Regions from separate parts of the Homo sapiens genome. Here all the other regions are linked to region 4. Evidence: fine-mapped expression QTL. A gene starts in region 4. Each other region holds a variant in brackets. All regions are shown on one strand. Distances are from middle to middle.

Region 1 (7,696 bases), 48 kb before region 4:
ATTATCTATGAGTTTACCCCTCTATTTGCTGCTAAAACAGCACATTATGGAAAATCCATAAAACCAGATTAATTAGTAGGACAGTCACAGTTGGGGTGGGGTATGGATGAGTATGTCAGTATTGCACACAGAATTTCCTATTCTTCCCACCAGGATCCTTTGTGGATCCAGGGCTTCCTGTCGTGTTGTTTTTCTTTCTTTGCTGTTAACTCTGAGTACGGAAGTCTACTTCTTTTTCTCTGGTAGCAACCACCACCCCTTCTCCAACCCAAAAGTTAGCAAACCCTTTCTGTAAAGAACTAGAAATAAAATATTTTTGGCTTTTTGGGTCTCATGTGGTTTCTGTTGCATCTTCTTCTTAAACAATCCTTTATAAACGTAAAAAAACACTTGTAGCTTGTGGAGGACTAGGGTCAGCACAGTTTGAGGACCCATGGACCAAACCTGGCCTGCTACCTGTTTTTGTAAATAGAGTTTTATTTGAACACACCCATGCCCATTCATTTATATACTGACTGCGGCTACTTTTGCCCTAAAACAGCAGAGTGAATAGCTACAATAGAGGCAATATGTCTCACAAAACCGTACCTAGCCCTTTATAGAAAAAGTTTGCTGGCTAGGCACAGTGGCTCATGCCTGTAATCCCAGCACTCTGGGAGGCCAAGGCGGGTGGATCACTTGAAGTCAGGAGCTTGAGACCAGCCTGGACAACATGGTAAAAAATTAGCTGGGCATGGTGGCATATGCCTGCAGTCACAGCTACTTGGGAAGAATAAGGTGAATACTTGGGAAGAATTGGTAAGAATAAGGTGGGAGAATCACTTGAACTCAGAAGGCGGAGGTTGCAGTGTGCCAAGACTGCACCACTCAACTCCAGCCTGGGCAAAAGAGTGAAACTATCTCAGAAAAAAAAAAGAAAAAGTTTGCTGACCTCTGCTCTATACTGCAAGATCTAGATTTTGGATGGAATCTATAATATTAACGAGATTAAGTAGGGTACCTGGGACACAGATGCCTGTTGAACTGCCCCACAACCAAACATTGACATAAACGCCCTTTTTAAGCTTTTGTTAACAATTACTATATGGTGAAGTTATAAACTTCTATTAAATTCCTTAAAAGATTGGTCTTAACTCTAGTTTCCTATTCCTCAAGATAATTAAAAAAATAAGTTTACTAAGCATTTATTATATACCAGAAGCTGTCCATACATTATTTCATTTTAAATAAAATTTAATTTCAATGTCCTTTTTCATTCTCACTAAACCCGTCTGCAGATGAGGAAAGAGAAATTTTAAAAAGGTAATTTTAAACAGGTAATTAATTCATATAGGCTGACACAATCAGAAGGAGCCACAGTTTGAATGTAGGTCTGTGTGCTTAAAAAGCCCATGCCCGGCTGGGCGTGGTGGCTCACGCCTGTAATCCTAGCACTTTGGGAGGCCAAGGCGGGTGGATCACCTGAGGTCAGGAGTTCAAGACCAGCCTGGCCAACATGGTGAAACCCCATCTCTACTAAAAATACAAAAATTAGCCAGGCGTTGTGGTACGTGCCTGTAATCCCAGCTACCTGGGAGACTGAGGCAAAAGAATCACTAGAACCTGGGAGGCAGGACTGCAGGACCGAGATCATGCCACTGTATTACAGCCTGGGTGACAGAGCAAGACTCTGTCTCAAAAAAAAAAAAACAAAAAAAAAAAACCCACGCCCTTTCCATTACATTTCTCAAACTCTTCACCTAATCACCACTAACAGCAGAGGGCAATGGGCAGTGAAAGTAGAGGTCTGGGAAATATAACCCTAAAAATCAAAATTGCTTTGAAATAGTTTGTGAAAGCAAAAGTACAAACCAACAATCACCACTACAATAATAAAAACAAAACAACTTCATGTATTTCTGGAATGGCTGACTAGGTTCTTTTAGTACAACCAAGTGCAATCAGAAAAACTGAACAAAATGTAAAAAAATATAAATATGTGTTTGAAGACACTGGTAAGATATCAAGGCAGTGAGAATTAGTAGGGCCAAAATCTGGAAGAAGGAAGGAAAGAGGCAGACCAGACATCTGGCACTGCTCTATCCTCAAGACAATGACTGATTCTGAAAGAGAAAACAGCAAGGGCAATAAAGCTAAGCAAAAATTAATGTCCAAAGTCTGCTTAGGAGAAGAGGTCCTGAAAAACACCTATGCTCTTATCAAGGACTCTGAAAGGCTACAATCTGAGAATAAGAACAAAACAAAAATAGACCAATCTTTACAACGGCTGAAGTCTACGTTAGAGTCATCTCAGCCACTGACTGGATGATCCGCCCTAGCCTAACTGTAAAAATATTCTCCTGGAGAAATATAAAATCATGAAGAACCTCAAATTATCATGACGACTTTTTTTTTTTTGGTATACAACATGGACAAAATTTTGATACACAATGTCCAAAACAACCAGGCATCAAGATGAAAATTACGGCTAAACACAAAAAAGTAGACAATAGAAACAGAGCCAAAAGACTCAAATAAGATTTTCATATTTTTAGCTTAGAAATAACTATTCTTAATAAAGTCAAGAAATTAAATGGCAAGATTAAGAAATTAGGCATAGAATAGTCACAGCTGAAGAAAAAAATTAATAACCTAAAAAGCTAGGTCAGAAGAAAATACGCAGAATGAAGTATGGAAAAACAAATGGATTGAAAAAGAATTGAGCAAAAAAACAGAATAAAGTGAAAGGGTCTAATGTAAGTGTTAACTGGAACCTTTGAGGGAAGAGACATAACTCAGGAGAAGTGGTATTTAAAGAAATAATGACTGAATATTTTCCGAAACTGACACAGTACCAACCCTCACATTAAAAATCTACAAAACCCAATGAAGATTACAAAGAAAAAGAAAATGTTACCTAAGTACATCAGTCAAACTACTGAAAACCAAGGACAGAAAAAAAAACTTCAAAGGTGTAATAAGATTGACAGCTGACTTTTTAGCAGCAACAACAGAATCAAGACTGCAGTGAACTATTTTTAAAGTGCTAAAAGAACAGAACTACCAACCTAGCATTCTGTATCCAGCAAAAATGTCCTTCAAGAATGAGCCTTAAAAACATGTTCAGAAAAACAAAACCTAAGTGAATTTATCACTAACAGTTCTATTTCTAATTCTTCAGGCAGAAGGAAAAGAATTTCAGATAAAAATTCAGAGATGTAGGAAGGAAGGGAGAGTCATAAAAAGGGTATGTATGTAAGTAAATCCAAATAAATATTGGCTATAATAAAACATTTTTTGAAAGTCTCACAAGATATTAGTATTATTACCATTAAAACAAATTACAAAACTGGCATCAAAAAGTATAAGGAGGATCCATAGAGTTTAAGAGCTCTAAAGTCATTTCACTGTCCAGGAGTTGTTTAAAAAAAAAAAACTGATTAATAATAGCCTTTAAAAGACCAAGGATGTCTAATATAATCTTTAAACAAACAAACAGTAAAACAATATAATTAAATTCAAATACAAAAAAATGAAATGGGAAAATACCCCAAATCAAGGCAATGTTAAAAAAAAAAAAAAAAAGGGAATATAGAATAGATGAGACAAATAGAAAATAAATAGTAAGGTGGTTGATTTAGAACCAAACATATCAATGATTATATTAAAAGCAAATAGACTAAAAACTACAATTAAAAAATAAAGATTGCCAGCCAGACTCGAGAAAAATAAACTCATCTACATGCAGCTTACAAGAGACACATATTAAATAGATTTATAAAGTTGAAAGCAAAATAATAGAAAAATATACCATACAAACAGTAATTAAAGGAAAGCTTATTGATACCACAAAAAAAACTAGTAGTTACATGGCTTGTTCTCTGTGACATTCATTAAGCTCTACATTTATGATTTTACATACTTTTCTGTATTAACATTTATTTCAGTAAAAAGTGTATACAAAAACCCATTCATGTGTCTTTATCCCATTAAGTACATACTTAATATATTCATATTTGATATAAAAATATCCCAAAATCTACAAGTAAAATTGACATGCCATGACAACACACCATGCTTATGCTGCATTATATATCTTATATTTCAGGCTCTCTCCTGAATTGTAATTCCAGTTTGGGAAGAAAAACCCTAAGAGGAAGAGGAGAGGTGAAGGAACAGCACAGTATAAGCAAAGCTGCCCAGTATCTTGAGATGTAAATTAACCATCTGAAACTATCAGATACATGTTTACACCTTTTGCTCTATCCTGACTGTACCTTCAAGTTCAGAAAGGTAGGCCTTCATGGATGATGAGTACATAGCCCCACTCAACGATCCTTCTCTCTACACCCAATCAAATTTGCCACAGGAAAACCAGAAACAAGTTTACCATGTCTTTCTGCTGTTTTCTCTGA[T/A]GAGGGGGTCTCAAATTCTGCCTCCCTACTGCCCCCTTTCCCTCATTCAGGTTGGCCGTTAGTGTAATCTTTATATCCAAAAGATACAATAAAACATATCCCTCCTGTCTTAAGTGATTGTTCTGAAATTCTAAATATCTCGATTGTCTGAGGACCAGTTCATTAGACCTTGCTCTAACCAGAAATCTTGGTTTGAAATTTCATTCAAACAGCCAGAGAGAACTGATTAGTCAAGTATCTGTTCGATATTATACAAGTCCTTCCTTTAGCAGTATACATGATCAAGACAATCTACAATAGAGGTATGTGATATGAAAGTACCATGAATTGAAAACATGAAGCCAAGAGAAGTAAATGAAAGATGTTTTAACTCTTAATTTCTTATGGAGGAAGACAAGCAGAATACGATTGAAGCAGTGAACCTGGAGCATTAGCAGATACTGAGTTGTCACTCTCTACATCCTCTGATTCTCTCACTAACACTTTGCCTTACAGCACACTGATCTTGGTTTTCCATTGCTTTTTGTCCTAGCTGTGATTTTGCCTTAATACCATACACAGCCACTTCACCATCTCAGAAAAGAACAAAGACAGTATTTTACTGCTGCAGAGTCTACCGCTCCTGGCACTGGAGAAGAAAGCAGTAGTCACAATGCCATTCAGTACCACTTAGGCAGAAAGCACTGTGACTGAGAAGAGGAAGGACTGCAGGACCAGAGAAAATTCCTATTTCTATCATCATATGGATATCTGAAGTTAAAGAAGTGCTAACCCAGCTCCATCAACTATGAATACTAACATGCTACTCAATCATATTCCAAGGACATGCTGAGCTTCAGAACAAGCCTACTTCTATAACACAAAAACAGTTACTGTTTGTGGAAAGCTACTGAAGTACTTATGGACACAGTTTTTCTTAGCTGAAGAGGCACTTTTTAAGCAAGGCATCTATCCTGGAGTGAATGTAAGGAAAACTGACTTCTTGGTGTTACGTAATTGTTTTTAACTTTAAAATGTTTTGTGATGCTGTCTGATGCCTGTCATACTCTCTTACTCTTCTCCCCCAGAGTATCAGCACACTCAGAATGTGTTGGCTCCTCTTGTGTTGTGTTTACCACATTCCCTTCCAATTTAAAGGACTCCGGCCTTATGACTAAATAACTGTAAACTCCCATTTTTTTTTTTCCTGCTCCTGGGATAAAATAGCCATCTCATGGGGGTAGAATGCATCCCAAAGCTCACTCAGATTTTTGGCAAAAATCATGTCCACAAGAGTGTTGAGGTAGACTAGACTGGAAAAAGACACAGCTTAACCACACTGCACATTATGAGGGCTTAAATACTATTTCTTTGAATTGGGTGGGGGAAGTTCTTTATGCCAAGTGCTTCCAAACCTGATGTGTAATCAGAATCGCTTGAGGATATTTTAAAAGTACAGATTTCCAAGCTTGACAACTGAGGTTTCAGATACAAAAGAACTCCCGGGACAACTAAAATTTATATTTTAATTTTATTTTTAAAGGGACAGCTTTATGCTATTCATTGTTAAAAAAGGATTTAGAAGGAAGAAATCATCACAAGTCCTACTACCCAGAAACAACAATTATTAATATTTTGTGATTATCATTACAGGTTTCTCTCTAGCAATAACAAAAATAGGAGAGGTAATTACAGTTAACATTTGAACCCTGTACTAAGAGCATCTGCAAACTATAAAGTACGGACTAGTATTCCCATTTACAGATGAATTCAGACACAGAGAGTCACACTAGCAATCTGAATCAGGAATTCAGACTCTTAACCACTTTGCTATTATGTCTTAGTCCATTTTCTGGTATTTATAACAGAACAACTGAAACTGGGTAATTTATAAAGAGAAAGCATTTATTTCTTACAGTTACGGAGGCTAGAAAGTCCAAGGCCAAAGGGGGCACATCTGGTAAGAGCCTTCTTGCTGTTGAGGACTCTCCTCTGAAGAGTCTTGAGGTGGCACAGAGCATCACATGGCATGAGGGATACGCATGCTAACGTGTTAGCTTAGGTTTGTTCCTCTTCCCTTTTTTTTTTTTTTTTGAGACGGAGTCTCGCTCTGTTGCCCAGGCTGGAGTGCAGTGGCGGGATCTCGGCTCACTGCAAGCTCCGCCTCCCGGGTTCACGCCATTCTCCTGCCTCAGCCTCCCAAGTAGCTGGGACTACAGGCGCCCGCCACTACGCCCGGCTAATTTTTTGTGTTTTTAGTAGAGACGGGGTTTCACCGTTTTAGCCGGGATGGTCTCGATCTCCCGACCTCGTGATCCGCCCGCCTCGGCCTCCCAAAGTGCTGGGATTACAGGCGTGAGCCACCGCGCCCGGCCTTCCCTTTCTTTATAAAGCCAAAACAGTTCCCTTCCCATGATAACCCATTAAGTTATTAACCCATTAATGGATTAAACCATTCATGAGGGCAGAGGTCTGTCTCATAAACCAATCACTTCCTTAAAGGCCTTGTTAATATTGCCAAACTGGGAATTAAATTTCAACATGAGTTTTAGAGGGGACAAATATTCAAACCATAACCCTACAGTTTTACAGAATGGGAATTATATTAGTCATCTCGTTTTTAAAGAATTAACATATTAGATTTATTTGAATTTATAGGAAATAAAGGAATCTAAAAAATCTGAATGTCACCTAGACATCTGTAATATGACCCCCATCCTCTAAAGGATCCCTCTAAAAATTAAGAAAAGTTTACAAAAAAACAGAAAGGAGTTGGAGGGCTCATTAAATAAGCTCAATTTTAGGCACTATCTATTGATTTCTTGCTGTGAAATGTGGAAATCAGCATGGATACACACATGTACAAATATATATATACACATATACATACACACACACTCCCTCTGCCACAACCAATTTTTGTTAACTGCTTTTATTTGGTAAAAATGTACATAGTTTACATTATATGAATTATGAACTGTAATTCCATGACTGCTTAATCCTGGATCTACATTAAACTAGATTCCATGCTCAACAAGAGTCCTTTTTAATCACAACTCCTCTAAATTTGAGTTTTTCATTAATATCATGTTTTTGTTAGCTGGGTTTCAGCAAGCAGTTTTTTTTAATGGCGCTAATCGGTGCCACATCTGAAATTCTTGCAGGCTTCAGAATGTCTGCTATTGCACAAACTTTCTTCTCCCTAAGAACTTTGTAAATATTACTCCATGGTCTTCTTACATGGGTGCCAGAGAATTCTGAGGATACAGCCTTTAACCTCTTCTCTTATGCTTGGTTTTCAGCCACTCCACCAGTTCAAGAAT
Region 2 (7,696 bases), 62 kb before region 4:
AAGGGAGTTGAAATAGAGCAAAATTCAACTCTAAAACTTTAATGTTGGTTGCTCTAAAGAGAATTTGTAAAATTCCTTATTCTAGCCTGTATTAAAGTTTTTATTTCAAATCTTATATATAAACACATTTTTAAAAAATCAACAGAGGTTACATTAACATTTAGCATAAAATCTACCACAGGTTGCCTCCCAGATTGCTTCACTATGTTTCTGTCAGGCCTACTATAAAGTAGAAAAATAAAATGAGTTTTGTTTTTTGTTGTTGTTTTTGAGAAAAGGGTGAGTGGAAGAACCCAAATAACTTTACTTCCTTTAATAATTGTAGACATAGAATTAATTTTAAATTATAGATTTTTAAGTAGGGCAAGTATCTCGAGAGCCAGCAGGCATTATTCTTAGACTTTTACTTTCAATTTCATAGGGAACCCTAGTTAGTAGGCTTAAAATTATCAATTAAGTGATAAAAATTCTAATCACTATTAACAGCCAAATTAACCTTGTGAAGGCAGCATTTAAGAGTAACTAGAAAATGGAAGTTAGTAATAAAGCAAACAAAGAAGGGCAATAAACACCAGGCAGAAACTGTCAAAGAATTATAGTCTAATGAACTGAAAATTGAAATGGCAAATAAAATGCTAGATGTAATTTAATCAAGGGATTCTTTCAAGTACAGTGCATCAACCTGGTAGTAACTATAGTTTGACAGTCTCAAAGAAGTGAAAAATTAATATTCAAGAAAATTGTGAAAATAACCAGTTAGCAAATTTACTGCTCAAATCCAATTCTGTATTCAAAAAATATTAAGAGCTGATCAATGATTTATTTTCATACCTCATTACAGTAAGAAAAAGCCCTCTGAAATTTATATTTGAAAGCAAACTGGGACAAAAATCTGCTTTATCTATGAACTTCCCACTAGAAAATACAAGCATACCATTATTAGAGAACATAAGACATCAAAAGCCTTATGTTTTAAAACCATACTGAAATCATTTACCAAATAACAAAGATCTTAATCTAAAAGATAGTGAATACATCATCATCATGAAATCTGGTTTTATGTGCTCTATGAAGTACTTGGAGAATTGCTTTTTTATTTTTCTTTTGCTTTATTAGGTCACACAAAACAGAATGAATTAGCAGAAAAATGTATGTTATAAAACAGCATTTACTACTTCAATTTAATTTTTTTTACTAACAATTGTGGACCTTTTTGATGACACTTATGTATGTTTTTAATAAATTATGTACTTATTAGTACTTAATGAGCCCTTCCTGCCTCAATATAAAATTACTAAACTTGGAGAATTACAGATTTTATTGTAGGCCCTGATGTTAGTCACTTTGGAGAAGCTAAAAATTTGGCCAAAATGAATGATCCAATGATCCTTTAAGTTATCTTTATATTTAATATAGTGTGATCCTGGACTACACTGATTTAAAACATGCTTTTTGAAAAATGTCTTAGTAATTGGGCAGTAATCTTCAGTGTGTTTCAAACACTACTTGCACCAAAATCACGTAGGTTGTTGGGTATTGGTTCTCAAACTAGGATAAGAAAGACACCTGCAGAGTTTGCTTAAACACAACTGCTAGCCCCTGCCCCTGCCCCTGCCCCTAGAGTATCTGATTTAGTAGATCTGATCTGAGATGAGGCCCCGAGAGAGGCTGCATTTCCAACAAGTTCCCAGGTGACGTTAATGCTGTTTGTTGGGACCAGACTTTTGACAGTCACTGCCCAAGGTATCTGGTAAGAATGCATACTCTTGGGCCCCATGCTTAAATTTGAATTTCTGAGATTGGGGTCTTCAGATCTGCATTTAACAACATCCTGGGCAAGTGTGAGAACCACAGTTTAAGAATCACTGTGACAATTTGGCTGGGTTAATTTGACTATTACTGGCCAATGCATCAGACGTCATATATCATATACATAAAAATGGAAATAATGCTACATGAATAGCCCCAAGCCTGATACGGTTCCAATGAACACACAGGGTTTTGAATATAAATCCTACCTCTGTTACTTACTAGCTTTGTGACAGTGACAAAGTTACTTTGTCTCTGAGCCTCAGTTTCCTTATCTATAATAGGGGTATAACACCCAAATTTTGAGGATTAACACTATTATACACAGATTATCTAAGCACAGTACCTAGCATACAGTTGGCATTGGATAAATACTAGCTATTACTTATTTCCTTCAGTATCTGGTCAAAGCAAATTTTTCATTCACTTAAATGCAGTACTTACACTCCAAGGTAACAGAATAATAATACAATCTTCTATTTATTGCTCCCTATCAATGTTCTAAAAACCTTACATTTATTTAATCCTCATAAAAATCCTGTGAGGTAGGTAGTATTATCATCCCTAATTAAAAGATGAGGAAATTGAGACACAGAGAGATTAAAATTGCTCAAGGTTACAAAAACAGTAAGTGTTAGAGCAAGAATTTAAACCCAAGCAAGTCTGACTCTAGAGCCCAGGATTCATCACAATATTCATTTCCTATGAGCAAATCTCAAGGTTTTTGGATATCTATAGTAAACCATTTATACTTCTAGTCAAGTAACACATATGAAAATTCATGTCCACACCATGGTGAAGAGTTGTTCAAAGAATAAAATGAATGCCTTGAAATTTTGGCAGATGATACTACCATGATAATAGGTAAAAACTGGTGCATGTTTTCACTACGTGGACAGAGTAGTCCATGGTTAACCAATGAAATGAACATCCTCTCAAATATACCATTCAAAGAGGTCATGATTTTGACATGTTTTGGCACAATAAATAGAAATTACTTAGCCGGGTGCTGTGACTCACGCTCGTAATCCCAGCACTTTGGGATGCCAAGGTGGGTGGATCACCTGAGGTCAGGAGTTCAAGACCAGCCTGGCCAACACGGCAAAACCCTGTCTCTACTAAAAATATGAAAACTGGCGGGGCGTGGCAGCGCGTGCCTGTAATCCCCGCTACTCGGGAGGCTGAGGCAGGAGAATCGCACCACTGCAGTCCAGCCTGGGAGACAGAGTGAGACAGTCTCCGAAAAAAGAAATTACTTAGCTAAATAGCAGAGTCAGTGGCATGACTGCCATGTAAAATTGGCATAATGATAAACATGAGGGAAATGTAAATACTTTGTACCATAAAAATAATCTCATAGAAAGTCTGTAAAATATTCTGCTATGACACTCAGTACTGCTAAAGATAATAAAAATAAAAAATTTCTTTCCTTTCAGAAACTCTTTAAACAGAGTCACTAAAAATAGAATGAAACATTTGTGAATGTTTTTGATGACAGTCTTGACTAGGTATTCTGCATTGTTAGAATTATCCATTAGCAAAACAATTATCCCAAAATAGCA[C/T]CAACCTTCAGACTGTTATTTATAAATTAAGTATCTACTCTTTCAAAATATAACATTTTTGTTTAAGCACTCTACATTTTCTATTGTTTTTAATTCTCATCAAAATCTTGCTTTCTAAATAATCTTGCCACTGTAACTAATAGCCACCTCAGATCCTATAAACTAATTTTAAAACTCTGCTTTAAACAAGTTATGAAAGGCACAAACAAGTTCTCATCCCAACAGGATGAGAATGAAATAAACCATAACTATGTAGTTGGAAAGAGTTTAAAATATCAATTTAAAATGTCACTTAGTAATTCCTGAGAGTGGCACTGTTATAAGAAAAGCATCCTGAAACAGCATTAAATTTATTATTAGTTACCCATAATGAACAATGGGCAAATTTGGGAACAAATATGTAAAATACATGTTTACAGAATGCTATGAACGGTTTGAGTAAATTAATGTTAATAGTGGAGAATGGTATTCAAGAGTGGCTAAACACATTTAGAAAAGAGACAACAGAGATTGCGTAAAAGATGACTAATTAGAATCAAGTATATAATATAGTCAAGGCCCATGATAATTTTAAAGTGTGGTTTTATTAATGCACTTCAGGGTAAGTGCCAGTCTTATTTTAGCTTCTTCTGGAAGAAATACTACCAATTATAAATAATCACAGCAACATTTTCATTAGACAAAAACTGTGTGTGTGGGTGTGGTAGGGGGGTATCATTTATAGCATACTGCAAATATAAACTCAATTCTTGAGCTATATTAACAACACTGAGCAACAATATTTCTTTCTAAAATTTTCTTTTCTTTAAGGCAGATCTGTTTATTACTAACATGGTGCAGTGTAGTTTTAGTAAATTTACTATTTTAGTTTCTCAGTGACAATAACACAGATGGTCAGAAAACAGGCAACAAAATCTCTTTTCTAGTTCCTCTACCTGGCCACCATTTAAAAAACACAAGTTCCTCATATATATAGACATATTTATATATTACTGTATCAAAACACATTTTAACACACTTCACAGCTCATTTAAAGCTTCAGTTTATAGTCATTCATGTGAAAGGTTTCTATAAGGAATGTTCACTTAGAATTCCTCACTGGGATTCCAGTGTTCTATGTCAGAAATGCAGAAGTCCTTTTTCAGTGCAGTGCTAGACATATTACCTTTGTTCATTCATGATTTTCTTTCAAGGATTTCCTAACTTCACTTTTGTATCTTCATTTTTGTTTGCTTGACTAATTTCCTTTAGTATACGTTCAGGTAAGGTAGGTTGATATCTGTATAAATAACCATATGGACGAAGATGATAAACGAGGTATTCTAACTCATACATGGTTGTAGAATCAACATAGTGAAAAGAAACTGCAAGATCAGAGCAGCAACCAGGACCCTAAAAAAGTAGTGGAAACAGGTATTGTTAATAAACAGCACATTGCTAGCTACAATATTTACATACTTATAAAGGACCAGCTAATTTTAAAAGAATACAAACATTAAAGATGGCAAGGTAAAGCAGAGGAACCTAATGTACTAGACCTGTGGAAGAAATCAATAGTTTACTTAGACATCCTAATGATTTAAAACCAATTGAAATTGGTGAAACCAAGTGAAACTGTGGAAAGTATTTTTAAATGAAACAATATTCTCTCACACTCTTTAGCGGATAAAATTACTGAGATTTCTTCAAATCAAAGGAGCAGCTATACAAGGAGAAATCTCCTTCTCCAACATCTGCTTTCTCTTCCTCATTTTCTCACTGTAATTTTTTGTGTGGCTCATACTCGGAAACATACCTCTAGGGCATTCAATGACTACAAAGCCTTGCCCATTAGGTGTCTACAACCCAATACACTTCATCTATATATGTATCAACCCAAACAGTACAGTATTTGAGACAAAGCTCTCAACCTAGACTTGGGTTTGAACCCAAATTTTGTGGGCTAGTATACGACCTTGAGTAAGTTATTTAATCTCTATAAGCTTTAATTTCCACATTTGTAAAAGGTGGTTATTTAAAGGAGACAATGTGTGTAAATTACCCTTTGCTTAAAATAAATGCCCAATAAATGTTAGCTATTATTGACTGAAAAATCATATCAGGTGGCCCTAAGGTAGGTCAGATTTAAACCTTTGTCCAGTTATGTAATTCTCATAAATTCCTAATAGGGTTGGTATGAGAACAAAGTTTAAAATAAAACAACAACAATACAACGAACAAGAAAGCAAGAAAATTAAGAAGACAGAAAAAGAGATGAATTAAGCAGTCAACCTAGAGTCAGAATTGGTATCTGGAGAATGTTGGTGTCATCCAGGTGACTCCAACAAAACTTCAGGCTCCATCTGACATCTTTGTAAAGAATGAGGGAGATAGTCTGGCAAGTTCCAAGAGAAGATTCATATTGACTGAATATTTAATAAATCTAATAATTTATGTTTGGAAGTATGTAGCTTACAGTGTGTAAAAATTATCAAACTGTCCACTGCGTTTTCTCTGCTGTTATCTCTAAACTTTCCTTTGAAACACACACTGGATATGTAGATTCTTAGACAACCTACTCTTGCACCTTTAGGAAATATCAGAATAAAAGCAAATAGGAAAAATAACCAGATAAGTCAACTTGTGATTATCTAAACTAGCTCTGTCCAACAGATATGTAAGCCATATAGTAGCCACATAAAAAATGTAAAAAAAAAAAAAAAAAAGTGAAATTTCATTTTATTTAACTGAAAAAGTTCATCATACTGTTTTAACATGCAATAGTTTTGCGATGATTAATGAAACCTTTCTTGAAATTAGGTGTGTATTTTATTTACAGCATATCTCAATTTGGACTAGCCACATTTCAAGTGCTCAATAACCACACATACTTAGTGGCTACTATACTGTCCAGTGCATATTAAACTTAAGGACTAGACCAGTAATAGTTATAAATTGCTGACCTCTGGAAGCAATTTTTATATTCTGTAAAATAATATTTTTGATAAGATTTACTGCATTAATTATATTGCTCTTATTTATTTATATTTTACTGGATGGCCAGGATTCTGTTAAGCATTTATGCAATAAAAGACAATAAAAGTAAAAAGCTATAATTATTAGAAAACAAGAGCTAGCAGACAATTATGGTTACCCAAAAAAACTCAAGAATCTCAAGTGAAGAATCATCAGAAATAGAGAATTCAGTTACAAAGCCAGATTTTAAAGATGCTTAAAAAGAAAATCAAACAAATAAGTTTTCATATATATCAGTAAAAAGTTAAGTCTTTAAAAGCCCAAGTAGAACAGTAACAAAAATATTGCATACCTATGGAAATAGTTTATAAAACTTGACCAAAGGACCTAAAAGGTGACTTACAAAAAATCCTGGGCAAAGATGTTATTGTCCCTAAATTAATGAGTTTGTATGCAAAGATAAAGAAATGAGTTGCCAAAACACTTAGAAAAAAAGAAGAGTTAATTTGCCCTTAGAATAGTAACTTAAAACTGCTGTAAAGCTACAAGGTTCAAAACAATATGGTGCTGGGCCAAAATCAAATGAGAACAATGGCATAGAAATGAAATCCCAGATTTAGATCCTACTATAAGTAAGGTTACAGTGTATGATAAGGGGGACATTTTAAATCAGTAATGAGTTAAAAAATGGTAGTAGAATAATTAGTTAACAATTTAAAAAAATCAGGAGCTCTCTACCTCACTTATGTACTAATATGTTTCAGATAGAATAATGTAAATAAAACTGAATAAAGTAGATCATATTTGACCATTTCTGACCTACAGAAAAGTCAATTTTTCATGTAGAGAGATATATATGTAAACAATTACACATATATTTTAAATCTACCATATTAAGACTCACTGCAACTTCTCTGGTGAAAAGTCTATTACTAAGAAGGTGGAGTGGGAAGGGAACTGCTTAAGAGTCAGTTCTGAACAAGAAATTTAGGAATGTAACTCTTTCATGAATTAGAATATCTTTTACCCTGACTTGCTAGATAAAAATTTTCTGTATTTTCAGTAATTAGTATATAGAAAAAAAAAGTATGTATAAGATTTAAACTCATTTAGGGGGAAGAAAACTTACTAAATGATAGATGGATAATAATAGAATTTTAGTTTCACGTTGGGTTTATGTAAGAATCTCCTGAGGGAGAACAGGCAATGTCAGATTGATGGGTCAATTTTGGTACTCTGAATTCTAATTCTGTTTTATGGTCTTCAACATAATTTGATAAATTTCTAGAGAAAGAACAAATTTGCCAATTATGATGTCCCTTTGCTACTACTGTATGTGTATCCAACATCAGATACTCTTAGTAAGATCT
Region 3 (7,696 bases), 74 kb before region 4:
AAGGGGTGAACCAAGTTGCAGGCCTCTTCCTGCAAGCAATGTAGTGAGGTAGAAAATGGGATCAATGTACTTGTGTTCCCTCAAGATACATCTCCCTTCTCCATCCAAACTGTTGAACTAAATGAAGAGTGAGGTCCTTGAGGAATGAGCTTTTCCCCGTTTTGTTAATGGGGGAGGCTAATATTCCTGAAAGATAGCTCTAAAATGTTGTCAGAACAGTCAAGAGTTAACAGCAATTGTCCATGGCTCCAGAAGCCTGATTGTTACTTGTCAAATTGCTTCCGGTGTTCTTTCCCACATGAAAGAGGGGGGTGACTGACTGGCTATTAGGGCAATAGGGGATTTGATGTCTGTTTGACCACACCCCAGCCTCCTGGGTGTGATTTTGATTTATATTAAAGCTGACAAAATGAATCAAATGTTTGCTGACCTTGTGTATATAGAATAGCTTGGGTTGGATCTTGAGAGAAATTACCTGTTGGAGAGGGGAAAGAGAAAGTTACCATCAACACTCCTGATTTTATTTTATTTATTTTTTTTTTTGAGACGGAGTCTCGCTCTGTCGCCCAGGTTGGAGCACAGTCGCGCGATCTCGGCTCACTGCAAGCTCCGCCTCCCAGGTTCGCAGCATTCTCCTCCTTCAGCCTCCTGAGTAGCTGGGACTACAGGCGCCCGCCACCGCGCCCGGCTAATTTTTTTTTTTTTTTTTTGTATTCTTAGTAGAGACGGGGTTTCACCGTGTTAGCCAGGATGGTCGTGATATCCTGACCTCGTGAGCCGCCCACCTCGGCCTCCCAAAGTGCTGGGATTACACGCGTGAGCCACCACGCCGGGCCAAACACTCCTGATTTTAATACATCATGCCATAGGATGAAGTTAATTTTTAGCTCCGTTGAGAGGAAACAACTACCATCCTGCCGCATAGTAGAGAGTCTGGAGAAAAACAGTGTCAGCTGAAACCTCTACTTTCTTTAATTTCATTAAAAAATTGATCTCATTGATGCCATCAACTGTGCTTCTGGGTAAAGTCGCTGGTTCACATTTTCAGTTTCAATTTCCCTTGCTTCTCTTGCTTCAGTTTCAGTAGCAACAGGAAGTTTGGGTAATTCTATATCATTTAAATGTGAAGAGGAAGAAAGAAAACCCTTTATAAACACATCCTGATGAGTGAGTGTCAGAAAATTCTATGCAGAGACGTGGAGTAATCAAAGAGCAAATTCAGAAAATATTCTCTAAGTTTAGGATTTGTAGACTACTGAATTATAAATTTATACTGATTAATACATAGCAAAGGTTACATTAATATATTAAATCATGAATTTATATTATCTTGAGGTGATTGACCCTATGAGGTCACTTATAAATTGATTTTATGAGCACATAACACTTTATCTCTTTCCACCCTCTAAGTCTGTATATTATTAAAATACAGAAGACTAGACTTGATGTGTTTCAAAACTTCAGGCGCAGGTTAAGTTCCACCACTCAGTTCTGCTTCACTTGTTCTCACTCTGAGTCACTCAACCTCTGAACACGTTTTTCATTTGGTCAACTTATTTGAGCATTTGTCCAAGTAGCCTGAGTGGGTCTAAGTATAAGACATGAAATAAAGAGCTTGACATGGCAGAGACTGTCAGACTTTCAGAGAGAAAAAACAGTTTACTTAAGAATCTCAGAAATAGCTGGTCATGTCTAAGTTAGGGTCCCTAAGAAAATACAGGTGATTTCACTTTGTATTTCCCCCATTCCTTTCCCCCTTCCATTTCCGAAATTTGGTATTTTGAAAAGGATGAAGATCGATTTGGAAGTAGCTTACTTTAAAAAGGAACATAGTAACAGGAAATTGTAAAGTAACATTCTGTTAGGTTTCAAGGCTGATTTGTGTTAACAAGCTGACCACAGCCCTAAGACATGCTTGAAACCCTTAGTGCAGGGAGACAAAATAGGAACAGGGCTGAGCCTGATGCGGCCTCATTTGGGTTTGGTTGTTGCTGCCCCACTTGTAAAAACAATACAGACTGCGAAATAGACAGTCGTCCCTCAGTATCCTTGGGGTACTGGTTCCAGGACCCCCTCTGATACCAAAACCCATGGATGTTTAAATCTCTTATATAAAATGGTATAGTATTTGCATATAACCTATGCTTATCCTCTTGCATACTTTAAATCATCTCTATAATACCTAATACGAATGCTATGGAAATAACAGTTATACTGTATTGTTTATATTTTTGTCATATTATTTTTTATTGAATATTTTTGATCCACGATTGGCTGAATTCATGGATGTGGAACCCACAGATATGAAGGGCCTGATTGTACTAACTGATACCAGATCATTAGGCAATTCTCTTACTGGGGCTGCAGATCCAAAATCCAGACCACGTTTCTCTGAGTAAAGGTGTAATTTCCTCTGAAAAGACTAAATGTTTTCACTGCCAGTTTCCCAGGGGAGAGGTTGGTTCAGCAGGAATTTTGGGAGGAGGGTGTCCAGAGTGTTAGGTGAGTGGAAACCTTCCTCATTTCTTTTAGTGCAGATGTCAATTTGGCTCCAATTCTAAAGAAGTGCTGATAACTGAAGGTTTCTAGTGGGGTAGCTGAACTACCTTTGGTGACCTGGAAACAGGTAGCAAAGAGGGCAGAGCAGTAGCCTGGTAAGGGTGGAGAGGATTCCACTGGAGCTTGGCCGCTCTCATAAAGTACTATCTGGACCCTTTCTTTCATTATTCTGGAACGGTCAGGAAAGTCTGGTCTCTACTGTGGGCAACAAAGAGGAAAATAAGTCTTTTCCCCAGGGTCAAACAAGATGACAGAAGTCACCAGCAGAAGATGGTAGTGCCCACTGAAGCAGCAAGTTAACTGGAGTCACTGTCCCTAGGAGGCAGCCCAGGAATGGGCAAGAGGGCAACCCATTTCTGGGTACACATTACACTGTACCCTGGGAACCGCTGAGGATCACGAGGGGCATATTTTAAGGGTGGCTATTTCTGCCAGTAATGCTGGAAAGCATTCATGGCATAATGCCATGATATGTAGCAGAATCCACCACAGTGTCTGTACGAAATGTTTAAGTAGGTAATTCATTCTGTCAGTTATTAAGTGTTATGAATCTGAAATCATTAAAACAATGTACTGCACAAGAAATAGGCAGATAAGCAGACCAGAATACAGTTTATACACAAACCGATAATGAAATATCATGGGGTAATGGTGATTTAAAATAAATGTTGAAAGAAAGGATCGTCAAATAAAGTGTATTACAACAAACGGGTAGCCATTTTCCTACCTCACTCCATATAAGAAAATAAATTCTGGAGGGATCAAAAATATAAACACAAAAAATGAAACTATGAAAGTAAGAGGAAAACATAAGCATATTATAAATAAACCTTGGTGTGAGCAAGACACACAATTCAATAGCCCTAAGAAAAGATTAATTGGTTTGTGTGGGGAAAAAACAAGTACGAAATAATCATAACAGTTCTAATACATATAAATAAACCAATATTCAGAGAGTTTATAAAAATTTTTAAAAACCCTAGTAATTCAATATTAAAAACTGGCGAAGATGAAATGCAAATTACCAATGTATAAAAAAAACTCAAACCTTAAGTACAAATCAACAATTATCAGATATTAATGCAGTGATAAAACTAGTAAGTTCAATAATCAAAAACTTTGGTAAAAGGGGCAGGAAAATATACTCGCAAATGTTGAGTAGTAGTATAAGGTAGTACAGTACAGTTTAAGAAGGCAATTTGGCAGTATCTATGAATATTTAAATGCATACATTCTTTATCTCAGCAATTACTTGCTAGGAACTTATCCTATGGCTGTACCCACACAATCATTTCAAGGATGTTCAGTGCAGCAATAATTATAATAAAAGTATCCAACTCAATTATCAATAGAGGAATGGCTTAAAAATTGTGGCACATCCATACAGAGATCTAGTTAACTATTAAAAAGAATTATCTCTAAGTTATTAAACAGTAAGCA[G/C]AAAAGGCAAGGAGCAGAATGATGTGTTTAGTTTGGAAATGAGTACAGTTCTGTTATTTTCTGTTTATGGCTGGACAAAGGGACTGCTGGGTGGGGCTGTAGCAGATTATAGCTTTTCATTTTATATTCATTCTCTTTTACCAAGCACATACATTACCTTTGTATAAAAACTTAAAAATATTTTTAACAGGAAAGACATTATCCTCAAACCATGCAGTAATGCCCAACTTGAATATATTTATTCAAGATCTAAGGAAGGAAATTTCAGGGGTACTGGAGTTATTGAAAAATAAACCTAAAAACATGCCAATGAAAGAAAATGGCTGTGGGTCTCAGAAAAAAATGGTACACTGACTGCACCTGGGAAAAAACTGGAACTCTCGAAGAATTGAAGTTAACTGGGCTTTGGCAAATTTGTGAATATATCGACTCTTTCACATGAAGTTGTACCTGAGCCTTATTCTTTAAATCCAGTTCAAATGCCACAATTTCTTTGAAACTTCTCAGATCCCTAAACACTTAATATACAGTCCTCTTATAGTTCTTTGTAAATACCTCTATCATAGTCCTGAGGAGGCTATTTGTTCACTGGCATGTCAGCCCCCAACCCAAATGTGAGATCCTTCAGGCAAGCCTTAACCACAGGTTTCGCCCTCCTTTCTCTTCTATAGCTGACAAACCATGAGCCTGGTGAAAGTTTGTTGAATGGGTGATTTAATGACTGGAGGAAAAAAAAGAGCTGTTGCTTTTTTTGGATTTTAGGATAGAAAACTTGTAACTTGACATGTAAATTAATTATTAACTAACTCGACACAGTTTTCTCCTTACCAGTGTTAGGCACGACCCTACCTTTGTTTTGTCATCAGAGATCACTTGTTGCTTCAGTAACCAAGAGCACTGAGCTACACCAAGTGACAGTGCTTTGGAATGTCTAATGGTCACTGTAGAGAAAAGGAACCTGAGCTCTCCTCCCTAATAGCAAATACACACAATCTTCTGCCCACACTTGAGGTTTTGTTCTTTTTCTGGACTGTATTCTCCAACGTAAATGCGAGGTTTTTTGCCTGATGGTGTATGATACGTGGAGTTCAAATCAAGATTTTCTCAAGCAGAAAACCTGTTTAGGAGTCCCTCCATATCTATGAGAAAAGCATTTTGTTTAGAGGTCTCCATAAAAATGAAACAGAAGAAAGTAGGGGGCATATGGAGAACTTTTCTTCATAGTGAAAGGATGCTCACCATTTACTTCCTTTTAATTGATATATAATGTACATATTTATGGGGGAGAGAGTAATATTTTGATACATACAATGTATAGTAATCGTATAGTAACCTTTTTAAACTTTTTTGTTGTGGAGATGGAGTCTTGTTGCCCAGGGTGGACTTGAACTCCTGAGCTTCAGCCTTCTGGGTAGCTAGGACAACAGGCATGCAGCACTACACATGGCTTTGTTATTTAAAAAAAAAAATCCTATTATGTCCCAGGCACAATTGGAAACAAGACAGATTTGATCTCTGATAACAGTGCCTGGCAACTATTAGGATCGTTCCTAGAATCTATTTGCAAATGGTGGGAAAAGGCAGGGACCAAATATGTGAGTTCTATCTAGCAGTACAATGGGTCAAAGAAAAACAGAAAGAATGAATAAGATCTAGTATTTGATAGCACAATAGGGTGACTATAGTCAATAATTTAATTGTGTATTTAAAAATAACTAAAAGAGTATAATTGGATTGTTTGTAACACAAAGGATAAATATTTGAGGGGATGGATACTCCATTTTCTATGATGTGATTATTACTTGTTGCATGGCTGTATCAAAGTGTCTCATGAACCCTATAAATACGTACACCTACTATGTACCCACAAAAAATTTTGTTAAAGTACATAGCTCAGGTTGTTCAGGGAAGATAAGAAATTGCATTTAGTACAAAGACCACTAACCTGGGAGTCAGGAAAATTGAGTTCTGTTGCCACTTCTGGCATTATTTGTGTCATTTTTCTAAACTTTAACATCTCTAGATCTGTTTCTGAATCTTTCAAACGAGGCGTTAGAACATCTTTAAGCTCTAGAAATCAGTAGTCCTATATTTTTATGTGGGAAAGGGCTCAGTGTCTTCTATTTCCATGAATAAGAGAATAAGACTTAAGCCAGAACAGATCTAAGAAAGATATGAAAATAATCTGACACAAGGATTTGAGAATAAATAGTAACTTCCGAGTACTCTTCACCCTTGGAGTAGAAGGAGAGAAGGATGCTAAGACGGGTCCACATGAGGCTGCTGGTCCTTTGTATGGGTCAACTATTTACCACTCTTGAAGATGGATACCTCCTTCATCTACCCTCATTATGAACTAGTTCAGCAGTCTTTATACCCTTGATTGAAGAAAGTAATTTCTTATGGCAAGATAAAAGAATCCAAATCAGCTTTGAGATCTTTCCAGCTCATGTGTGTACCTGCTTACCTCTACTGCTGCTTAAGAATGTCTGTGGACATTCTTCACCACTGGTTGTAAAAACCCTAGGGAGCCAGGGCCAACAGCTTTTTTTTCCCACTTTACTTCTCTAAACTGTGACAGTATAAACATGATTTTTTAAAAGTTCAAAAAGGAAAACAGTGAATTATTGAATTTCTTTCCAATCCTAGTACCCTTCCCCAAAGGTACTGCCAACAGTTTTTGTATATTCATACATTTATAAGTTAAATCATATTTTTCCTTATTTGACATCATATCTATGTTTGGTCTTAATTCTGTCATCTATTGTAAATTCTCCCTTTAGCTCTCTTATATGGCCTGTGTTATCTTTAATTTTGTGTTTTCATTTTAATAGTTATCAGGCTTACAGTTTTGGTGATTACCTTCATAACTATTCAGAATATTACATCCCTATTTCTTGATATATTATCAATTTTACAAAATTTCTATTCTGAAAAGTAAAACCAATTAGGGCATGTATATATTACCTCGTCTTTGATATTCTATTTTCTAACTTGTTAATCATCTTTTCTATATCAAGATTTATAACATTTCAATATGCTTCCATAGCCTTATTTAAATAATTCTATAGCTACATAGTTAAATAATTAACCACCACCAGTCCTGTTCTCAATGTTTGTCCATTTATCTCTTTAGATGGGCTTCATCATCTAGATTTTTCAAGAAGTGTCCACCCTCACTCTTTCAATTTACCCTTCCATTTGAAATCACTTGGCTTCTTCCTCCCCCAAGAATCTGGTAGAGTTTGCTTCACTCTGCTTTAGCACTGAATGTTGCTACAGAGAAGCCTAAGTCCAGTCCGTTCTTCCTCTCTCCATCTCCCCCTCCCAAAGAAATCACTCAATTTTGTTGCTGCTAAGATGACATTCCCCTCTCCCTGCCCCCAGGACAATTTGCAGATTTTGGCCACATCAAGAGCAACTGTATTTTTTTGAAATTATAATGTTAAAATTAGCATTTGTTACACGATCTCACTTTAATAAAACCATTTCTATCTATTTAGCTTCCTATCCAATTTATATTTATGCATTAATTGGAATTACTTTGGGGGGTGGTGGGGTTTGGGGTCCTTTAAAAATTTTCATCTTTGAAATGGTCATCTGCAATGAATGTTTAAGTTTTTTTTAAAATAATGGAGCTTATCACTTTTTCAATGGAAAGATGACTTATCTAGTAAAAGCTGGTAGTAAATACACA
Region 4 (7,696 bases):
ACTATAGCCTCTGATTCAGTCTATAATGCTAAACATTTACTGAACGATGTAAAAGATAAACCGTGCAACTGTTACAGGTTAAACTGTGTCCCCACAAAAGATAGGTTGAAGTCCTAATTCCAGTACCTCTGCACGTGACCTTATTTCAAAATAGGGTCTTTGCAGATGTAATCAAGTTAAGATGAGGTGATTAGGGTGGATCTTAATCCAATACGACTAGTATCCTTGCAAGAAGTGGAGCACACCATCTGAAGACAGAGCCACACAGGGATTATGTTGTGATAACAGAGTCACAGACTGGAGTGACATAGCTGCAAGCCAAAAAATGCTAAGGATTGGCAGTAACACAACAAGCTAAGAGGCATGGAACAGATTCTCCCCTCGAACCTTGAGAGAGCATGGCCATACCTACATCTTGATTTCAGACATCTTGCCTCCAGAACTGAGACAATAAATCTGTTGTTTTAAATCACCCAGTTTGTCGTATTTTGTTACCGCAGCCCTAGAAAATACAATGACCAAGAATGCAAATAACTATGCCAAGCTGTATTTAATTTCAAATTCTGCCTATTATCCAACATCTAGCCGTTTAAATGTGCTTTAATATACAGGTTTCCCATTCCAGAATCTCCCTAATATTGCCTCTCGTTGCCCCCAACACGCCCCTTCAATGTGCAAGGCAGCACATACTACAGGTGCTAGATAATTTATTTAGACTTTCCTTTCAGTTTCCCCCACCTTCTTATGTGCTTCCCTAAATCACAAACACCAGTTTCTTTATATATTTTTTTTCTCCCTCTTCCTATTCTCACATATTACAGATTTTGGCATATATATTCCCCTTGGACATTTGAATTAGCTGCAAAATAATTTAAGTACACATTGGAGTTCCTCTCTAACCAGATTTTAAGATAAAAGGCTAACTTCTCATTTTATGGAACAAGTCTCCTTCCCGCTCCCCACCTTTCTTCTTTTAAAAGAATGACTTAATCCCACTGAATTTGAAGTAAAAAGATTTTTGTCATACCTTTCTTTCAGCCTTGCTATAGTTTGTACATCAGCGTCTTTAATCAAATCTTAAGAAATCTTCTAAAAGAAAAGATGGTTGTATTGGGAAGCTTAAACTTTTAAGCCTATCTGAATTTAATTTCAGCATCAAGCTTTCCATTTTCTACTTAAGGTTTATTTATAGCTGCACTGTCACAAAAATTCCAATCAATGATTTTACCACACAAAGACTCTAAATTACCATGGCTTATAATGTTAAACTGCATAATGCAATTTTAATTTTAGCACAAATCAATACACAAATAGTAGCATGTGCCTAGTGACATACTTTTTCATATTTCTATTAGGTAAACAAGAACTCATTATGTGTACCCTGAAATAAATTTGTGATACAATTTTAAGAATAACTGGATATTGAATTTACTCAACGTAGTCTAGTCTTAAAAAGCATAATTATGAAAAACTTTAAATAGGAAACACAAAATATTTCTAAAATGCTTAATCCTAAGTAGGAAGATACAAAAAAATACACATTCCAGGCAAATTTGAGAGGCATTTAGTAGCTCTCCACTAATACTGAAAAATTATTCTCTTTATGAAGAATTTTAAATGAGTCATACTTTCCTTACTAAGTCATTGTTTCACTTACCATAAGGTGAAGAGTTAACTGTTTGCTAACTTGAAACTTTATATTCACTTAAACTGTACATCTATATATAAAGACTGGTAGAAAGTATAGTGTACTATATACAATATTTAGAACATACAGCATCATGGGCATTAAGCTCAACTGCCATTTACCTAAGAGGGTGAAAAGCTGTCATCTAAATACCTTCTAAAAACTCGGATTCCAACTTCCCAAACTCACACCAGAATGAAGCAACTTGAAATTATGCGCACTTTTTCCTGGCAGAGCTATGTTCTATGCCCAACTTTTAGTAAGTTAACATATTTCTCTCCCTTACACATCGGCCAATTATTCATTGATTCATTATGGTTCTAAATTTATAACTTTTAAATTCATAATGAAATCAATCCATGGTTAGCACAATAGTTTTCTATCTTAAAAAAGCGTTAAAAGGAAATACAGTAGTATGTACAATGGATATAGAGAACTAGGTTAGAAATCTTGAGAATTTTTCCAGGATGTGTGGGTTTTTTGTTGCTGATACTGTTGTTTGCTTTAAATGCGGGGTGGTGGGGGGTGGGGAGACGGTAAGGACCAGGAAAGAATAAATCCACAGCGCTAAATTATGGTCATCTTTTAAGAGTGTACGACTTACCCAAATTCAAAGCAAATGGACAACTTGTCAACACCTACTAATTCCATCACAATTTGTTGGGGAAAAATGGGGTGCAGAAGCAAAAAAAAAAAATTTAATGCCTTTCTTCCTCCTCCATGCCCCGAATGCCCCAACACACACGTATCTGCTTCACTCTGCGGCAGGGAAACTTAAAGAAATAAATCAGCTACAGACAAACCTGATGATCCAAGCTAGACCCAAGCAAGCTCCAGGCACCTCTGGAAGGAGCCCGCTCGCTGGGCGCTCAGGCGGCGCGGCAGCCGAGTGGCTCCCCGGCGAAGGTGCCCAACACCTGGGCGCCCAGTCCGGCGGGACCCACAGGTCTGCGGCGGGGCGGGGAGGGCCCGGGAGGAGGGACTGGGAGGGCCCGGCGGGGCAGGACCGCTAAGTGGTCCGGTCCGGGCGCACTGCGCGCCCCGCCGCGCCGCCAGGCAGCGCGCGAGCAGAAGAGGGGCGCGAGCGGGCACAAGGGAAGGACCCACGACGAAGAGGAGGGTACATGTCCACAAAATTGAGGCCGGGTACGCAGCCGAACGCTGTGGCAGATCGCTAAGGCTCCGGGAGCGGGAAGTCCTCGCGCCTTCCTCAGGAGCCCGGACGACCCCAGCCCGGCTTTGACCCCGAGACACCTGTTCCGCCGCGCCCGGGGTTTGGTTCCATCCTCCACGCTTCCCCACCAACCCGGAGAGGGGGGAGGGCGAGGGGAGACGAGACCTTGGACCCGTAGCCTGAGGGCGCCTCCGCCGGCCATACCTGACATCAGCTGCGGCTCCCTCTCGCCCCTCCTGGGGGGCGGAGAGGGGGACGACTTGGGACTGGTGACCTTTGCTTCTCTGGGCAGCCGCAGAAGTGGCTCGTGGCCGCTAGCCGAGGCCGCCCGCTGCCGCCCAGATTATTCCCCGGCAGCGGCAGCACAGCGGCGGCGGCCAAGGCGGGCCCAGCGCGCGCTCCCGCCCGCTCGCTCCGCCCCTCCCCGCAGCGCGTCCAGGCCGTGGCCCGCCTATGGCGCAGCCGCCACCCGAAGTCTCCTGGCGCTGACGTCTCCGCCGCCGCACCAGCCCCAGGGAAGGGCGGAGCGGGAGGGGCGGTGGGCGGGGATACGGCGACGTGAGGAAGCGGGGATTGGCTGCCGGGTGCACGCTCCGCCCTAATGCGAAGGGGTCTGGGAAGTCGGATCTTGCACGAGCAGTAGATTTTGTTGTATCCCCCTTGCGGCTTGTGTCTGCTACTCTCCGCATTTCTGATCCTGCTGTAAGGTTATGCACTAGCTTCAAGACCTTGAGCGGGACGAAAGCAGGGTAACAATAGGGAGCGAGAAAGGGGATGCTTGAAGGACCTTTGTCTGAGGTACAGGCTCTAACCCTGCAGGACTCTTGTGGCCTGTAGCCTGCTCTTAACCCGTTCATTTGTTTTTCTGTTCTCTCCCCGTGCTCTCTTTACTCAGTATCTCTCTGGGCTTAATAAAAGGAAGTAATAAGATGAAGTATGCATACGGGTGCTGGGTCATCATGTGAGAACCAGGAAGAGCTGAGAACCGAGATAATGATACCAGAAAGCTTTCTATAGGCACATTTCGTCTTTGGTTCTGTCAGCACTTCGGTTCTGTGGGGCAATGGCCGGAAGAGCTTCTTAGGGGCGTAACAAAACCTATCTCCCCTTTCGCTGGGCTCTGAATAAGGAAGTTGTCTTTGGAATAGGGGGAGGAGGCTGCCACCTGTTGAGGCAACCCCACAATAGTCATGAGGTGAGGGTAAGGTTTAGTCTTTACTGGCGTTAACCATTATCTACAAGACCACGTTCCAGAATAGGAAAGCTACCCTGCTTCCTTTAAATGCCCTATCCAAGCGGTTCTTTAGTACTCTACAGCATGGTTGTTAAAGAGTATGGGCTCTGAAATCAGACTGCCCGGGCTGGCATCTTGGTCCCTCCACCTATTGGCAAGTTACTTAGAATGCCTGAGACAAATAATAATATACATTAGTTATTGTTATTTTTCCTTTAATTTGCTTAGGTTCAGCTGTAGTGTAGTTTCTCAGGACATTGCATCAATATATCCAAAAGAATTGTGAAACATAAAGCACATGTAGTGATTCTAATACAGATGTCTCATTTTTCAGATGACAAAACTAAGGCCAGAAAGATAAACTGATAGGTCCATGTTAGAAGAGAAGTGCAGCTATCCTGATGTCCAGGTTATTGCTCTTTCCTTGGCTCATGGGTCCAGACTTCTCTGCCTTACATGATTACGTCCATTCTCTACTCCTCCCCAACTTGTATACAGTTGTTGCTCAGCCTCCTCCCCCTCCACCTTTCCGCAATATCCTTCCACCTTTCCGCAATATCCTTCCACCTTTCCGCAACATCCTTCCACCTTTCCGCAATGTCTTGCCATCCATTGTGAAACATGGAAGGAGAACTCTTTCAGGGGTCAGTGTTCCAAATAGAAACCAAAACTCACAACTCCTTATCTCGTTTTAATTTTATTAAAAGTTATAATTAATAAAGAATAACACTTTTTTCCATTGAGCAAAGATTAGAACCCTTTCCTAAAATAAGGTCAGCCACAGCCTTATCCTGGAAAATTACTTGCTAGAAACAATACTGGACCAAATCAGCCCTGCCCCCACCCTGCCTTTCTTTGAAAATAGCTTTTTTTTTTTTTTGAAGAGATATGGTCTTTCTATGTTGCCCAGGCTGGAATGCAGTGGCTATTCACAGGTGTGATCTTGGCACACAACAGCCTCGAATAACTGGGCTGAAGGCTGAAGCAATCTTCCCGCCTTAGCCTCCCCAGTAGTTGGGATTACAGGCACAGGCTGTGGCACCCAGCTAATAACTATTGTTTTATAAAAACAATACATGCTTATGCAAACAAATTTAAAAAATTTAAACAAAAATGCAAAGAAGTTAAAATCTGTCCAAATACCATAATATAGAGATAACCATTTCTTAAATTTTGTGTTACATTCTTCTAGGCATCTCTCTAAGAATAAAAGCACATATAGACATATAAATACAATATTTCATAAATTGGATCGTATTATCTGCACAGTGAACAACAGTCATGAATAACATCATTTTTAAAAGTTGCATACTGTCTGTTAAATGGATATACCATCATTTATCCAACCAGTATTCTATTGATTGACATTTATGTTTCCAAGTTTTTACTACCATAAAAAAAGTCTCTGATGAACATTCTTATCCATAGGCTTTTGCACAATTGTGCAATTATCTCCTTGAACACATTCCTAGAAGTGACATTAATGTCAGCCAATTCTTCGACATTTTCAATTAGAGAATAAAAATTGTGGTTACTTTGAAAAATATACTTTATATGTGGGACTCAAAACTGACCAGATTCTCCCATTTGAAACATACTTGAAACACACATAAACCTCAGTATTGTTGTTTCTCTTGTGTCTAGTGTTTAATAATGCATGTCAAAACTCGTTGGAGTAGGTCGGTAGACATTACTAGTTGTCTAAACCAAAATCCTTTCTTCTTTACTAGTAGAACTCTGATTTCTTCAGGGTGACAATGTGGCCAGTTAAAAATATTCATGCCCCTAGACTTTCATAAGTCATGGCTGGCCATGTGACCATCAATTAAATAAAAGTGAATTTCTGTAGAGGAGACTCAAGGAAAGCTTTATGGAAGAAATATCGCTTTAGCCATTTGATATGCACCCATCCCTTTTTTTTTTTTTTTTTTGAACCTGAAACAGGGACATGATACTGGAGGTAGAACAGCCATATTTCACCCATAATAACAAAAGCCACACAGACACTATTAATAGTGTAGGACACCAGAGGTGCCTAGGTCCATGGTTGCTTTGGAGGGCCAACTTACCAGGTCTGGACTATCCACTTCTGGATTTGTTGTTAGGTGAGGAAGATTATATCCCTTCTATATAAGATTTTGTTATTGTCTGTTGTAAGTATCAAATGCAATTCTTAGTTGACATAATAAGATAGGCCAAGTCATCATTTATTTAGCACTATATATAGAATTTTTTAATAGACAGAATGAGGTGAAAATGGTGACAGAAAATGCAAACAAGCTAGCAACAACATTAAAACATTGTCTTCTTTAATAGACTTAGTTTCCCTTTAAATACCTACATTTTACAAATATATTAACACCAGTTTATAATAATTAAGTTAAATTTCGTGTATTAAATTTTATTAACTCATATGGTAGTATTAAAATATGTTCACAAATTATTTGATACTTCTTCCTTCAAAGGGTCAAACTTCATTCCCCTCACCTTGAGTTTGGACTGTATTAAATGACTTGTTCTCATGAATAGAATGTAGTGGAAATGATGTAATGTGACTTCTGAGGGGAGACTATAAAACATGCCAGACTTTTTATTCTTTCTCTAGGATTACTTGTTGGGGCCAGGTAGCTGTTATGTCAGAGTCATAAGGTCACTCAGGCAACTTATAAGGAGGCTCACATGGTGAGTAATTAAGGCTTCTAGCCAACAACCGGTGAGGTATTGAGGCCTTCTGACAAGAGCCATGTGAGTGAGCTTGGAAGCAGATCCTCCAACCCTTCAGGCCTTCAAATGATTGCATGCATCATGGTCAACATCTTGACTGTAACCTAGAAAGAGACCCTGAGACAGAACCATTCAGCTAAGGTGCTCCTGAATTCCTAGGCCACAGAAACAGTGAGATACTAAATGTTTAAATGATTGTTGTTTTAAGCCACTAAGTTTTGGGATAGTTTGTTATACAACAATAGGTAACTCATACAGCTGGATATAATAGAGCCTAGCACAATGCCTGGCACACATGCAGGTGTTCAATTATTTGTTGTTTGAATGAATAAATAATTGAATGAAGTATATCTTTTTCACTTTAGTAGGTAGCATACAATGTTAGGATTATCTTTGCTCCCTGACACCTGTATTATCTAAGGGTTTTTTGATCTCTTATAGAGAGATGTAGTGTGAATCTTACTGAGAGCTAAACTTTGCCAGTTGTGGAAGTAACATGGTGAATAGAACAACGGAATCCTTGAAACTTGAATTCTGCCCCCAGTTGTTTTTCCTCAATCAATTTTTTTTAATTTTTTAAAAATTAATGAGTTAACACAAAATTAAACCATGTCTTGAAACCAGACAGCCATCTTGTCTGCCATCTCCAAGCAAATTACAGATTGACTCATAATACAAATTTGCCCAGAGGGCTTGCAATACTATTTCACAAAGTTGGCTGTATTATTTCTCTTCACAAATGACCAGTCTGATGCATAGCATGTTTAGCTACAGATGCCTCTGATGACTCTCTCTGCAACATTTTCATGGCTCGCCAACAGGTCTGTCTACATTTCTCAGGTCTACCAAGGGGGCGGTTCAATTCTGCTTTGATGTA

The links. PIP is the estimated chance that this variant, and not a neighbour inherited with it, causes the effect.
Region 1: its variant is fine-mapped to the expression of C1GALT1 in whole blood (GTEx, PIP above 0.99).
Region 2: its variant is fine-mapped to the expression of C1GALT1 in skeletal muscle (GTEx, PIP 0.94).
Region 3: its variant is fine-mapped to the expression of C1GALT1 in whole blood (TOPMed, PIP above 0.99).

Annotation. Positions count from the first base shown.
Region 1 is chr7:7,226,491-7,234,186 of GRCh38, reverse strand. All of the region lies in intron 1 of C1GALT1 (core 1 synthase, glycoprotein-N-acetylgalactosamine 3-beta-galactosyltransferase 1), which reads right to left. Among named protein-coding and RNA genes, the nearest start is that of LINC03016, 25 kb to the left of the region's middle. The variant T/A (reference allele first, on the strand shown) is at 4,395.
Region 2 is chr7:7,240,591-7,248,286 of GRCh38, reverse strand. It overlaps C1GALT1 (core 1 synthase, glycoprotein-N-acetylgalactosamine 3-beta-galactosyltransferase 1), which reads right to left. Exons shown (of 4, transcript NM_020156.5): 4 at 1-4,763. The coding sequence ends at 4,560. Among named protein-coding and RNA genes, the nearest start is that of LINC03016, 11 kb to the left of the region's middle. The variant C/T (reference allele first, on the strand shown) is at 3,372.
Region 3 is chr7:7,252,331-7,260,026 of GRCh38, reverse strand. It overlaps LINC03016 (long intergenic non-protein coding RNA 3016), which reads right to left and starts at 4,873. Exons shown (of 4, transcript NR_108073.1): 1 at 4,849-4,873; 2 at 431-475. The variant G/C (reference allele first, on the strand shown) is at 4,000.
Region 4 is chr7:7,178,190-7,185,885 of GRCh38, reverse strand. C1GALT1 (core 1 synthase, glycoprotein-N-acetylgalactosamine 3-beta-galactosyltransferase 1) reads right to left here and starts at 3,342. Exons shown (of 4, transcript NM_020156.5): 1 at 3,066-3,342. RefSeq lists silencers at 2,553-2,772, 2,993-3,602.